Homo sapiens: one gene and its partners. The protein of the gene in region 3 purifies or fractionates together with the protein of the main gene of each other region. This does not show direct contact. Each region holds a gene or a part of one and is shown on either strand. Other genes may lie near its edges.

Region 1 (3,648 bases), on a different chromosome or scaffold from region 3:
GGTGGGAAGGGAGGGGAGAGAGACAAAGGTAAAGAATTTAGCTCCAACTTGGATCGTAACTGCTTCTCTAGTGAAGTTCTACCTTTCTGCTTTAATAAAAGAAAGTCAACTCAGAAATGCTACTTGCCCAGATGCTTGACCACTTGTAGGAGATGCTGGAAGGGCAGCTCAGACTTTAAGGTCAGAAGGACTGAAGAGACAAAGCAGCCTCTGCTTTTCACTTTATTCACTTCTATTCTCAACTGAATGGATCTTCCTTCTAGGCCAAAGCTCTAAAGCTGGGTCCCTAGGGCAGTAACTGCACTGCCAAGCTTCCCTGCTCTTTTTTTTTACCCACTCACATGCTCTCAACCAAATCCTTCTCCATGGGGACCACCACAGGACTGAACTTAATAAGCTGCATGGCTCCCATACTGGAAACCCCATGTTCCTCCAGCTTTTTGGAAACCTCAGGGAGGAAGAAAAGCTAAACTTTCAGTGGCAGGTATACCTCTTCTCTAATTAGCCTCATTATCACCCTGGGAAGCTGAATCCCAACCTTGAACCTCTGTGACAAAGAGCATCCTAGACCAATAAGCCCAAAATCTCTGGGCTGGATGCTGATGGGAGTGAAGGATAAATCAATCTCCTATCTACCAAACCTCCTTAGGCTTCCTATCAGGCTATCCACATGACAATCAATATACTACAATTTTTGATATAAGTTGGGGAGTTAGCTATATCCATCTAGAAAGCTGACTAGCTGGATAGCAGCTGTCCTAGTCCCAGCCCAGAGGATTTATCTAAACATCACCCCATTGCTGTGTCATATGTGTCCGTGTGCAAAAACAGGGGAAAGAGATGGTGTCAAACTCTCACTCAGCAGCTCTGAGGCAACACTCATGCACAGGGCTCATCCTGGGTTCTGTCCAACATGGTCTACCAGGGCAGGGAACAGAGCAGCACGTGTGCACAAATCTAGGTTGTGGGGGACGTTGAGGTCGGGGTGGGGGAGGTTAGACTTAAAAGACAAAGTCCTAAGAGCTCCCAGGGCAGGAGGGCAGTGGTGAGTTTCTACTCTGAAATCTGCTGAGTAGATTCAAGCATCCACTTGAACTCAATTCCATGGTTTCAGTTCTATTCTAGCTGGAGGTCCTATAGTCAGGTCCTTCCTTGAAGAATCTGGGGACTGGAGCACTTTGAGGGAGAAGCCACATTTGGAAACATGCCCCTAAGGCAACAACTCTTCCATTTTGGGTAGAAGGTGGTGGGAGAATTAAGGCAGTGAGGATGTCAGAGTCTATTATGAATTAGTGGTTCTATTTCTACCTATGAGCTGGTTGGAGAAGGAACAGCAGGCAAGATATTGGCTCCCTGAGCAACGCTCCAGCTGATTCTGTCACAGACAGGTCCTGTCTGACTCATTGACAGCCCTGGGGGAAGGGAGGTATATCATGACCTGCTCCTCTCCTACTCCCTGGGCTTGAGTCACTCACACTGAGTCAGCTCCGGGGAGTAAAGATGAAGCAAGAAGCTGACATCACACCATATCAAGCTAGAAGGCCTACTGGGGCTTCCAGTGTGACATGCGGCAGATTTCTCTGTACAAAGGTTGCAGTCCTGAAAAGACAAAGCTAATCTACTAACAGTGTCATCATATCGGGGAGGGTGTGATACCTAAATCACTCTCTCCTTTTAGCTCCCCCATTCTATACCAAAATATTTGCCATTTGGTTACAAATGGGAGGACAAACTGCCTGGGCAGAGTTCCCCGACTAGGCTGATAAAATGGCTTTGAAGCGGCAGGCTTTGAGGAGCAGTGGTGGAAAATGTGAAAAATCAGCACAAAGCCTTCTGACTGTGGGAGAGAGTGTAAAGGATTCCTCATAGTAAGAAAGAGAACACTGTGAGAGCTGAGCAGAGAACAACTCTGCAGGGAGACCATGGGCAGGAAGAGAACTGTACATGCTGCCCCTGAGCCTCTTCTTTGAGGCCCGACCTCATCCTTGGGAGCCCCTCTACTGGTGGTAGGAGCATAGTATTAAACTCAGAACCTAAAAGAAAAGCAAGAGACTGGGAGCAGAGTGTTAGGGTCTACCTAGAGATTCTCCTAGAGTATCTCTGCTTAGGTCTTAGATAATTATGTGCCTCATTTTAGTAAGCTGTATACTTCCTGCTTATGGCAGAAAACAACTTTTTCAAGAGAGTCACAAACTAAACAGTTCCATAGATACTGGGGTTTTCATTATTACTTCACATGTTCCTAGAGGGAAGGATAACATTTTATCCCCCGTCCTCCACAGCACAGCTCACGGCTTTGGACATTGTACAAAGTCAATAACTACATGTTGAGTGAATGAATGTTACATGAAAGGGAAGAAGGATGAGTAAAAGGAAAACCAATTCCTTTGGTATTTAGGGGACAAAAGCCTTGACAGACGCATCCTCAAAATGCCAAAGGGGCTGGGTCTAGTCACTCATGCCTGTAATCCCAGTGACTTGGGAGGCTGAGGCGAGAGGATGACTTGAAGCCAGGAGTTTGAGACTAGCTTGGGCAATAGAGCACGACCTCATCTTTACAAAAAAATTTTTTAAAAATTAGCCAGGTGTGGTGGTACATAGCTGTAGCCCCAGGTACTTGGGAGGCTAAGATGGGAGGATTGCTTGAGCCCAGGAGTTAAAGGCTACAGTGAGCTATGACTGTGCCACTGCACGCCAGCCTGGGCAACAGAGCAAGACCCTGTTGCAAGAAAAAGGGCGGACGGACAGACAGACGGGTGGGCGGAAGGAAGGAAGGAAGGAAGGAAGGAAGGACGGATGGAAGGAAAAGGGCTGGGAGAGACCCCTGTGCTGACGACTCTAATGCTTAGAAACCTAGTGATATTCATGTTTCTGTCTCTTTCTTGCTCTCCCATTTTCTGTGGAGCCATAATGAATTCAGGTATTTCATTCTGTCAGTATCAGATAACGCAGGAGTGCCTGGGAACATAGTATCTCCTTCCTCTCCTGGATCTAGTGACCCAAGATAAGGAGTCAGGTTGGAAGAACGGCAGCTACAGAACCCACCCTAAATGATGTAAGTATTCACCTAATACCTGCCTCTCAGTGCCATCCATAATCTTATCCTGGAGTGGGAGTTAGATGTAAGGAAAGAGGGACCAAGGATCAGCAGAGTAAGAAAAGCCCTGAGGCCTCAGCTTTTCTGGTCCTAAGATGAGCACTACAAAATGGATAAAGAGAAAAGCCAAGCCTGACAAGAGGCACCAAGGAATTCACTTCCAGCTGCTCACCCTCTGCTACAGGTTTGACTCCAAGATGAGACAGCTATCCAACCCTTCATGTTCCACTAGAATCTGGATGACTCTTCTTGTTCTGCAGCAACTTCTCTTCATGACCCAGGGCTCTGCTGCCAAGCTCAACCAGATATGAAAACGGTTCATTCTAGTTCTGACAACAGTTTTGGCTTTGCCTGTGCATGGATGTGGAAGCTCAGATGGCCATAGCCTGGGCCGTTCTTCCCCACATGGCTTCTGACAGCTGGGGACCTTGGGAAGTAGATATTGAGAAATAACCAAGGTAGTTCAGCTGAATGATTATGAGCACCAGCTGGAGATTTGAGTCCTGGTCTGACATTCACTAGTTGAGGGACCTTGGGCAAAACATCTAATC
Region 2 (4,184 bases), on a different chromosome or scaffold from region 3:
CCAAGCCCACTCTAAGAGGAAGTTTTGTTCTCAAATTCTAAATTATGTCAGAAATTACAAGGTCATTATAAATTTCAGAAATGTGTGTTTTTTTAAGAACTATTGCTCTTTGACATAGAGGTGGTTGACACTAGGGTTTTTAAAAAAGCGCTACAAAGAAAATGACTGTTTTCTTGGGGAAAAAGTTAATTATCATATCAGTCATACAAATAGCTACTACTAAAATCCTGATTTTTAAAAATGGCATAATCAGGATCTTAAAAATGGTATATTCGTTAAAGTATTTAAAGCATTTCTTTAAAAATGTTTTCTTTTTCAAATTAAAATGTGGCTGAACAAAATATTCACAAAATATTCACAATTAGAAGTTGGTGGAGAGAGCACAAGTAACTAAAAGCTTCTAAAAACTATCAAGCCTTATAGTAGAATCTATCCTTTAATATGACTTCAGGCCAGGCGCAGTGGCTCACGCTTGTAATCTCAGCACTTTGGGAGGCCGAGGCGGGCGGACCACCTGAGGTCAGGAGTTCAAGACCAGCCTGGCCAACATGGTAAAACCCTGTCTCTACTAAAATTACAAAAATTAGGCAGGTGTGGTGACGCAAACCTGCAATCCCAGCTACTCGGGAGGTTGAGGCACGAGAATCACTTGAGCTCAGGAGACAGAATCTGCAGTGAACAGAGATGGCACCACTGCACTCCAGCCTGGATGACAGAGTGAGACTGTGTCTCAAAAAAAAAAAAAACAAAAAAACAAATATATATATATGTAAATATATGTATGACTTCAAAGGCAGTTAGGATGAAAAGTATGTAGAAAACTTCAGTTTGGAGGCATAGTTCTACACATTCATTTGCACAATATCCAAACCAGAGAAAATCAAAATTAAATATGCAAATGAACAACCAAGATTATGTCTGATTAATTTAAATACATTCAAAAGATGACAGGAATTAATTTTGCCTCTTGGAGAATACTTTATATAATCCCAGGGTTATTTGGTATCCATCTAAATTATACCATTCTGAAGACTATGGGCATTTTCCGAAAACAAATATCCTTATATGTAAAACCTATATTCTATCTTATCTAAAGTTTAGTAATTCTAATTAACTGGGGCACATATGAAAAAACAGAGTTACTCCAGCAAGGTTATATGACATCTTGTAAAAAGTAAAGAGGATCATCACATACACACATGGACCAAAATATCTTAAACTGAGGTACCTCAAATTTAGGTCCTGACTTTTCAATGATGTAAAATTAAGAACAGAAACCAGAAAGGAGTAGTCAAGTACATCTCTTATCCTTTTTCACACAAAGGTTCACATCCCCCAACACCAGCAAATCTTTACCCCACACATCAAATGCTGAACTGTTCCTTAGACTTAAGAGTCAAAAGCAACTGAATGAAGATCCCTGAAAGATTAAGCTCAATGAAACTGCAAAGAGAGACTTGGCTATTCAGAAATAAAATGTGATACCATCCAGAAATCTTGGGTCACACATTTTCCGGCTAATACCTCCGGCACATTCTAATCCTCCTCCGCCGTGTGACCTAGAGCAAGTTACTTGGCCATTCTGGGCCTCATTTTCCTCTTATGTAAAACACGGATATAAACCAAGCTCTCTCTGGGAGTTGTTCTGAAGATGAGAAGGCCATAAAAAAGCACATTACAGGCTCGTGCCTGTAATCCCAGCACTTTAGGAGGCCGAGGTGGGTGGATCGCCTTAAGTCAGGAGTTCCACCAGCCTGGCCAACATAGTGAAACCCCGTCCCTACTAAAAATACAAAAAGTTGCCGGGCGTGGTGGTGGGCGCCTGTAATCCCAGCTACTAGGGAGGCTGGGGAAGGAGAATCGCTAGAACCTGGGAGGCGGAGGTTGCAGTGAGCCGAGATCGCGCCACTGCACTCCAGCCTGGGCGACGGAGTGAGACTCCGTCTCAACAACAACATAAAACCACATTACGCGCTACCAAGCGCGAAATGTTCACTGACTGTTAGCGATTGTTCTTCCCTTCCCTGATGATTTACGTACTTCAGACCTTGGATCCCAACAGTGCCCGAGACGCGAAGCAATTCGAGGTTCAGGTTCGGGAAGGTTGTGCTTGGAAGCTGCGTCGAGGGAGAGCTTGAGGGCAAGACCAACCAACCAAGTCCCCTGTCATCCAAGTCCACAAGCCTCGCACCCAGGACCAAAGAAAGACAAGGGGGAACCTGGATCTGGGTTTTCCCTCAGGAAAACAGCAAAGACCGACTTGGAGGCTGAAGCAGCATTAGGGAACGGGCCGGGGAGAAATTACTTCCTGAAAACTCTCTCAGCAAGGAAGGACCCCTCTCTACACCACTTAACCTGCCTGCATCAAGAGAACAGCAGCCTCCGGGAGCCAGGAACCCCGCTCCTCTCTCTCTTACCCGGCTCTCCATACGGAATGGTCTCGGCCCAGATGCTCGGCTCCTCTTCCTGGATGTCCAGAACCCTGTCAATAGACTTCTGGGCCTGGGACAGGGCCTGCTTAGCGAAGCTGGAGAGCTGGGAGGCGTTGAACCAACTCATCGCCCCTCCTCAGCCGGCAGTGGCGGCGGCAGCACCAAGCGGGAAGGCCTCAGGCCTGGGGAAGGGTGCAGAGGAACGGCTTCGCTCCCCTTTTCCACTCGGCTGGTTCTGTCAGCGTGTGGCCATTACCCCGACAGCCTCCCGCGAGCCCGGGATGTTACCCTCGGCCGTTCCCGCACAGCTGAGACGAAGGGGGCCCATGTGCGCATGCGCTTGCTTCTTCCACGTACACAGCAACCAAATCTACGAGCCCAGAGTTCGGTCGACAGACGGAAGAACAGAAGAACGTTGACGTCACATCCGGGAGCGCAGGGTTGCCGTTAGTTACCGAGGAACGCGGAAGGGTTTCTATTGATGTCGATTTCGTGCTTACAGCAGTTCTTAGCGAAGGGGAAGCTATGGCTACCGATAGAGGTCGATTTCCCCGGAAGGAATATTCAAGTTTTCGTGTGTGTGCTTTCCAGGAAAATAGTTCACGTGCTAAAAGCTTGCACCTTGCCAGCAATAATTGCAAAGGGAAATTGGGCCTCACACTTCTCTTAGCCCTTTGTCTCAAATATTTAATAAGCTCTGTATTAACTTGGTATTGTAAGGAGAAACACTTGTTTGGGCTTGCCTAAAAGACAGGATCACGTATGAACACTGTGTCCAACTCGTGGAACACATGGTGCATAAAGCACAACCTCTCTCTCAAAATAGTAGTAAACTCATTGCTGCAGTCAAAATACCCCTAATACTGTGGTCTGTCGGTGTCCCCTGCACAAATTCCTATGTTGAAACCTAATCTCCAATGGGACAGTATTAAGGGGAGCCTTTAGGAGATGATTAGATGATGATGGAGCCCTCATAAATGGGGTTAGTGCCCTTATAAGAGAGGCCCAAGGGAGCTCACGGCAAGAAGGCACCAACTCTAAGCCAGAATAGCAGCCCTCACCAGACACCAAATCTGCCGGCTCCTTATCTTGGACTTCTCAGCCTCTAGAACTGTTAAGAAACAAATTGCTACTGCTTATAAGCCACCCAGTTTATGGCAATTTGTTACAGCAGTCCAAATGGACTAAGACACCTAGGAAGCACTAAAGCTGTTATCCTAACAATGTGCACTGTGCATATTACTTAAAACATAACCTTTTCTGTGTGCATTCTCTTCGAACATTTGGACATGGGAAAATACCTTAAATTGGTGGCCTTCCTAATCCAGTCTGCAGCTATATTTGGTTTGGGCCCAAGTTAAAGACAAAATCCTAACTAAAAGCCAGATTTCATTCAAAAATCTAGATTTCCAGCTGCTTTTGAAAAATATGAATACCAAGCATGGGAATAGTCAGCCAGAGTGGTCACCAAATAATTTTCACTCACTCCAGTTTGCCACAGACCCCTATCACTCATCCTATTACACCCTCCCTGCTGTGATTATTTACCTTATATGCCTGCCTCCCATATTTGAATATTTTACCCCACTGCAAGGAACTCTGCAAAAAAGAATTATTTTTCTTTTAAAAAATCAGATTGAACCCCTTAAGAAGTTATAATCATCTTCCAATAATTTTATCTAACTACAGTAAAAACTTGCATGTTAAAACTAACAATTTAGTCATGTACACAAGTAGTACCAAGTAACTCAA
Region 3 (3,648 bases):
GTTGGCCTGCCCGGCAATGTTGTTTGTGTTGTGTTTCTGTTTGGGTTGCTCCAAGGTTGTGGAGAAGGGGTGTGAGGTACTGCTGAGTGTCACCAGGACTCAGGCCTTGCCCCCGAAATGGTTTGGCTGTGTCCCCACCCAAATCTCTTCTTGAATTGTAGTTCCCATAATCCCCACGTGTCATGGGAGGGACCCAGTAGGAGGTAATTTAATAATGGGGGTGGTTACCCTCATGCTGTTCTCATGATAGTGAGTTTTGACGAGATCTGATGATTTTTATAAGGGGCTTTTCCTGTTTTGCTCAACATTTCTTGCTGCTGCCATGTGAAGAAGGACGTGTTTGCTTCCTCTTCTGCCATGATTGTAAGTTTCCTGAGGCCTCCCTAACCATGCTGAACTGTGAGTCAATGAAACCTCTTTTCTTTATAAATTACCCAGTCTCAGGTATTTCTTTATTAGCAGCATGAGAAGGAACTAATACAGCCCCATGGCTGGCTTAAGTGTCTGCACTGGTGCTTTATCCTTGAGGCAAATGCTTCTGCTGCCTTCCCGTGCCGACAGGGAAGGATGAGGCCAACCTGTCCAGCTCCTTCAAATATAACTCCCCTCTTAGACAACCTCCCTGACATGTAGTAGGACCCCTCTGCTCCTGTACATGTGACTACTAAGCTGCGTGCACACTAGTCACTCCCTGTTTTTACAGAACCTTCTCCTGGGTGCACTTTGAGCTGTGGTCTCTATCCGTCTGGTCGGTTCCATCTGCTTTCTCTCTTTCAGTACTAATTTACCTTTCTGGGCTATCTACGGCATTCTTTCTTACCTTCCAATGCTATTATGGATTTTTAAAATCCTTCCATTATTTCTAGGGATATTTGGTAGAATGGAGCTGTCAAATAGCACTTAATTCAAACACTTTTGTTTCCATTATACAGAGTATCAAGACCTGTGTAGTACTTGGTTGTTAAGAGCAGAGTCCTGAGTCAAGTACACATGGATTTAAATGCCAGCTCTTCTTACTGTGTGAGATTAAGCAATTTTCATAATCTTTCAGAGCACCTCTTTCCTTACCTACTAAATGAGATAATTGTTATTGTGAGGCTTCAATGAGCTAATGTATGCAAAGCCCTCAGCAGAGCACCTAGCACAGAGCACTCAATGCTTAATCTTTTGGTTGTTTTTGTCAGTTTTGATTCTTAGCTTTCTTTTTAAGTTAGGCCTGGTTAATATAGGTCTGCAGAGAGCCTCTTTTCCATCCATCTTGTCTGGACAAAGAGTTTTGCCTTCCAGCCCTTTTCCCGGCCTCACCAAGAACAAGCAAGCAGTCTGACCCCCTTTCTGTTGTCCTTACAGCCCAGCTCCAGCGGCTGGAAGGGCTGAGAACCATAGGTGTTACCACCAATGGCATCAACCTGGCCCGGCTACTGCCCCAGCTTCAGAAGGCTGGTCTCAGTGCCATCAACATCAGCCTGGACACCCTGGTGCCTGCCAAGTTTGAGTTCATTGTCCGCAGGAAAGGTGAGCGGATGTGGATGGGGTGGGTGTCCCTCCCAGGGCCTGCACATAGCTGGGGAGGGCATGGCCATTGCTGAGCCAGGGGCCTGGTCACTTCCTCTTGGTGTCTGGGCTATCAGTAAGTCAAAGCACTTATTTCTCACCCCTCATCTTTGCCAAATGTATGTCAGGGACTTTGGGGGTCAGACGCTAATGACCTAGGGTGACCAACCTCCCCACCACCCCAGCCCCAGTTTGCCCAGGACTTGAGGGGGTTTTAGAATGAAGGACTTGAAGTTTTAAAACCAAGACAGTCTGTGGCAAACTGGGCCGAGTTGGTCATTCTACGATGAGCTCTGAAGAAACACGGGACAGCCCAGGGTGGAAGTAGCCACCCTGGGATGCCAGGGTCTGGGTGTATGCTGCCAGGAGGGGGTCCCCCAGCAGGCCCCCATGGTTATCCCTGTGCCCACCTGGGTATAAGCCCCTCCTATGCACCTCCTACTACAGGCACAGCCATACCCTCCACTCACCTGCCTCAGGAGGCCCAAGGTAGACAGGTGGAGCCAGCCTCGAGCTCTGGGTCACAGGAGACCAGTGCCTGGCTTCCCTTTGGCATGGACCTCATGTTGGGGCAAAGGCTCTTCAGGTTGGGATACCCTTTGATATTTGGGAGGGGGTACATGACTGAGGACTCTGGAGGATCAGAGGGGTGGCAGGGAGACCCAGATCTCCTTCCTCTTCCTTGGAAACAGCTTCAAGATCAGCCCCACCACCTTCTTTCCTTCCTTTTCTTAAACGGGGTGTGATGCCTTGCTTAATACCCTCCATGTGCTGAGGAAGCACTCATGGTGTCTCTTTCCTCTATGGAGGCCTGCTCCAGGTGCTGTGGAGGGGACAGAAGACACATAAGACATTGCCCTGTCCTTACAGGCTGCTAAGGGCCAAAAGATGTCATTCCATGGGACAGCCTTTGCTTGTCTTGTGGTACTGATTAAAGAGTTACAGAGAGGAAGAAAGAACTCTTAGCAGGAGAGAACTAGGAGGGCTTCAAGGAGGATGCATGCATGCTGGCCTTGAGGAACTGGAGGGTTTCAATCAATGGCACATACTCTGAGGGGGAGCAGGAGTACAGAACCTGCAAGGGCTCTACGGTGGGAAAGTGGGAGGTGGATCTGTGGGCTGTACTGCCCGCAAACACGTTCTCCCTTTTTGTCTCTTATTTCCTGGCACATGGATTGGAGACATCAGATCTTCCCTCCCATTCATACTCTTTTGTCCACCACCTGCCTTTGGAGGGGAGTGTTTTACAGAAAAGAAAACTTATAGTTCTAGGTTATCCTAGCAGCATTATTTTTTTCAAAGCTATACATTTTTCCCTTTACCCTCTCACTGAGCAGTCTGAAAATGCTGCAAGGAAACCATGGAGGCCATCTCTAGGCACCCTGTCTCACAGGTGACCACCCAGGCTGTGCAGGCTGGGGGTGCTGGAGGGGGCCAGGATGCAGTAGGTGATCAAGTGATTGGATGCATGAGAGAACTGGGCAGTGAGAAGTCAGCCTGGGGTCACATTGACTGTGGTTAATGATTGTTGAGACAATAATTGCTTACCAGCCCTGGAACAGCACCTGTGCGTAGTAGGTGCTCAGAGAGTATGTGTTGAGTGAATAATTGATGGACTGTTGAGGAAAAAACACTGAAACGGGAGTGGAAAACCTGCATTCTGAAAGATGGAGCCATGGGGCTTTGAGCAGAGCATTGCCTCACTCTGGGTCTTGGTTTCCTCCCGTAGACTACAAGAGGGTTCAACTAGATCCAGGGTCAGCATGCTATGGCCCACAGGCCACATCTAGCCCCCTGCCTGTTTTCATGTAGCCTTTGAGCCAAGAATGCATTTTACAGATAGCATTCAAAATCAGTTAATGATAGGGAACATTAACTATGAACCCCATTTAAGCAAAATATTGTCCCTGCAAAAAGAATCGCATTATTGTATCCCATTTGTAGATCTGTTTTACAAGACACTGTAGTCAGTTATTACTATTACATTTTGAATTTAGCCAACACTTTGTGACATGTACTTACACGGATCCTCAATTTTGCCTCTTGGCTTGCAAAGCCTACGATATTACTCTGGCCTGTTTTAGAAAACGTTTG

The links.
Region 1: the proteins of MOCS1 (region 3) and PI4KB purify together in Homo sapiens (affinity purification with mass spectrometry; one large-scale study listed by BioGRID and IntAct). This does not show direct contact.
Region 2: the proteins of MOCS1 (region 3) and TMF1 purify together in Homo sapiens (affinity purification with mass spectrometry; one large-scale study listed by BioGRID and IntAct). This does not show direct contact.

The regions. Positions count from the first base shown.
Region 1 is NC_000001.11:151,310,292-151,313,939, forward strand, and holds part of PI4KB (phosphatidylinositol 4-kinase beta), read right to left. Parts: intron 1-3,648. UniProt on the Homo sapiens protein: Phosphorylates phosphatidylinositol (PI) in the first committed step in the production of the second messenger inositol-1,4,5,-trisphosphate (PIP). May regulate Golgi disintegration/reorganization during mitosis, possibly via its phosphorylation.
Region 2 is NC_000003.12:69,049,528-69,053,711, forward strand, and holds the start of TMF1 (TATA element modulatory factor), read right to left. Parts: upstream 2,807-4,184; 5' UTR 2,560-2,806; coding exon 2,418-2,559; intron 1-2,417. UniProt on the Homo sapiens protein: Potential coactivator of the androgen receptor. Mediates STAT3 degradation. May play critical roles in two RAB6-dependent retrograde transport processes: one from endosomes to the Golgi and the other from the Golgi to the ER.
Region 3 is NC_000006.12:39,913,935-39,917,582, reverse strand, and holds part of MOCS1 (molybdenum cofactor biosynthesis protein 1), read left to right. Parts: intron 1-1,350; coding exon 1,351-1,515; intron 1,516-3,648. UniProt on the Homo sapiens protein: Isoform MOCS1A and isoform MOCS1B probably form a complex that catalyzes the conversion of 5'-GTP to cyclic pyranopterin monophosphate (cPMP).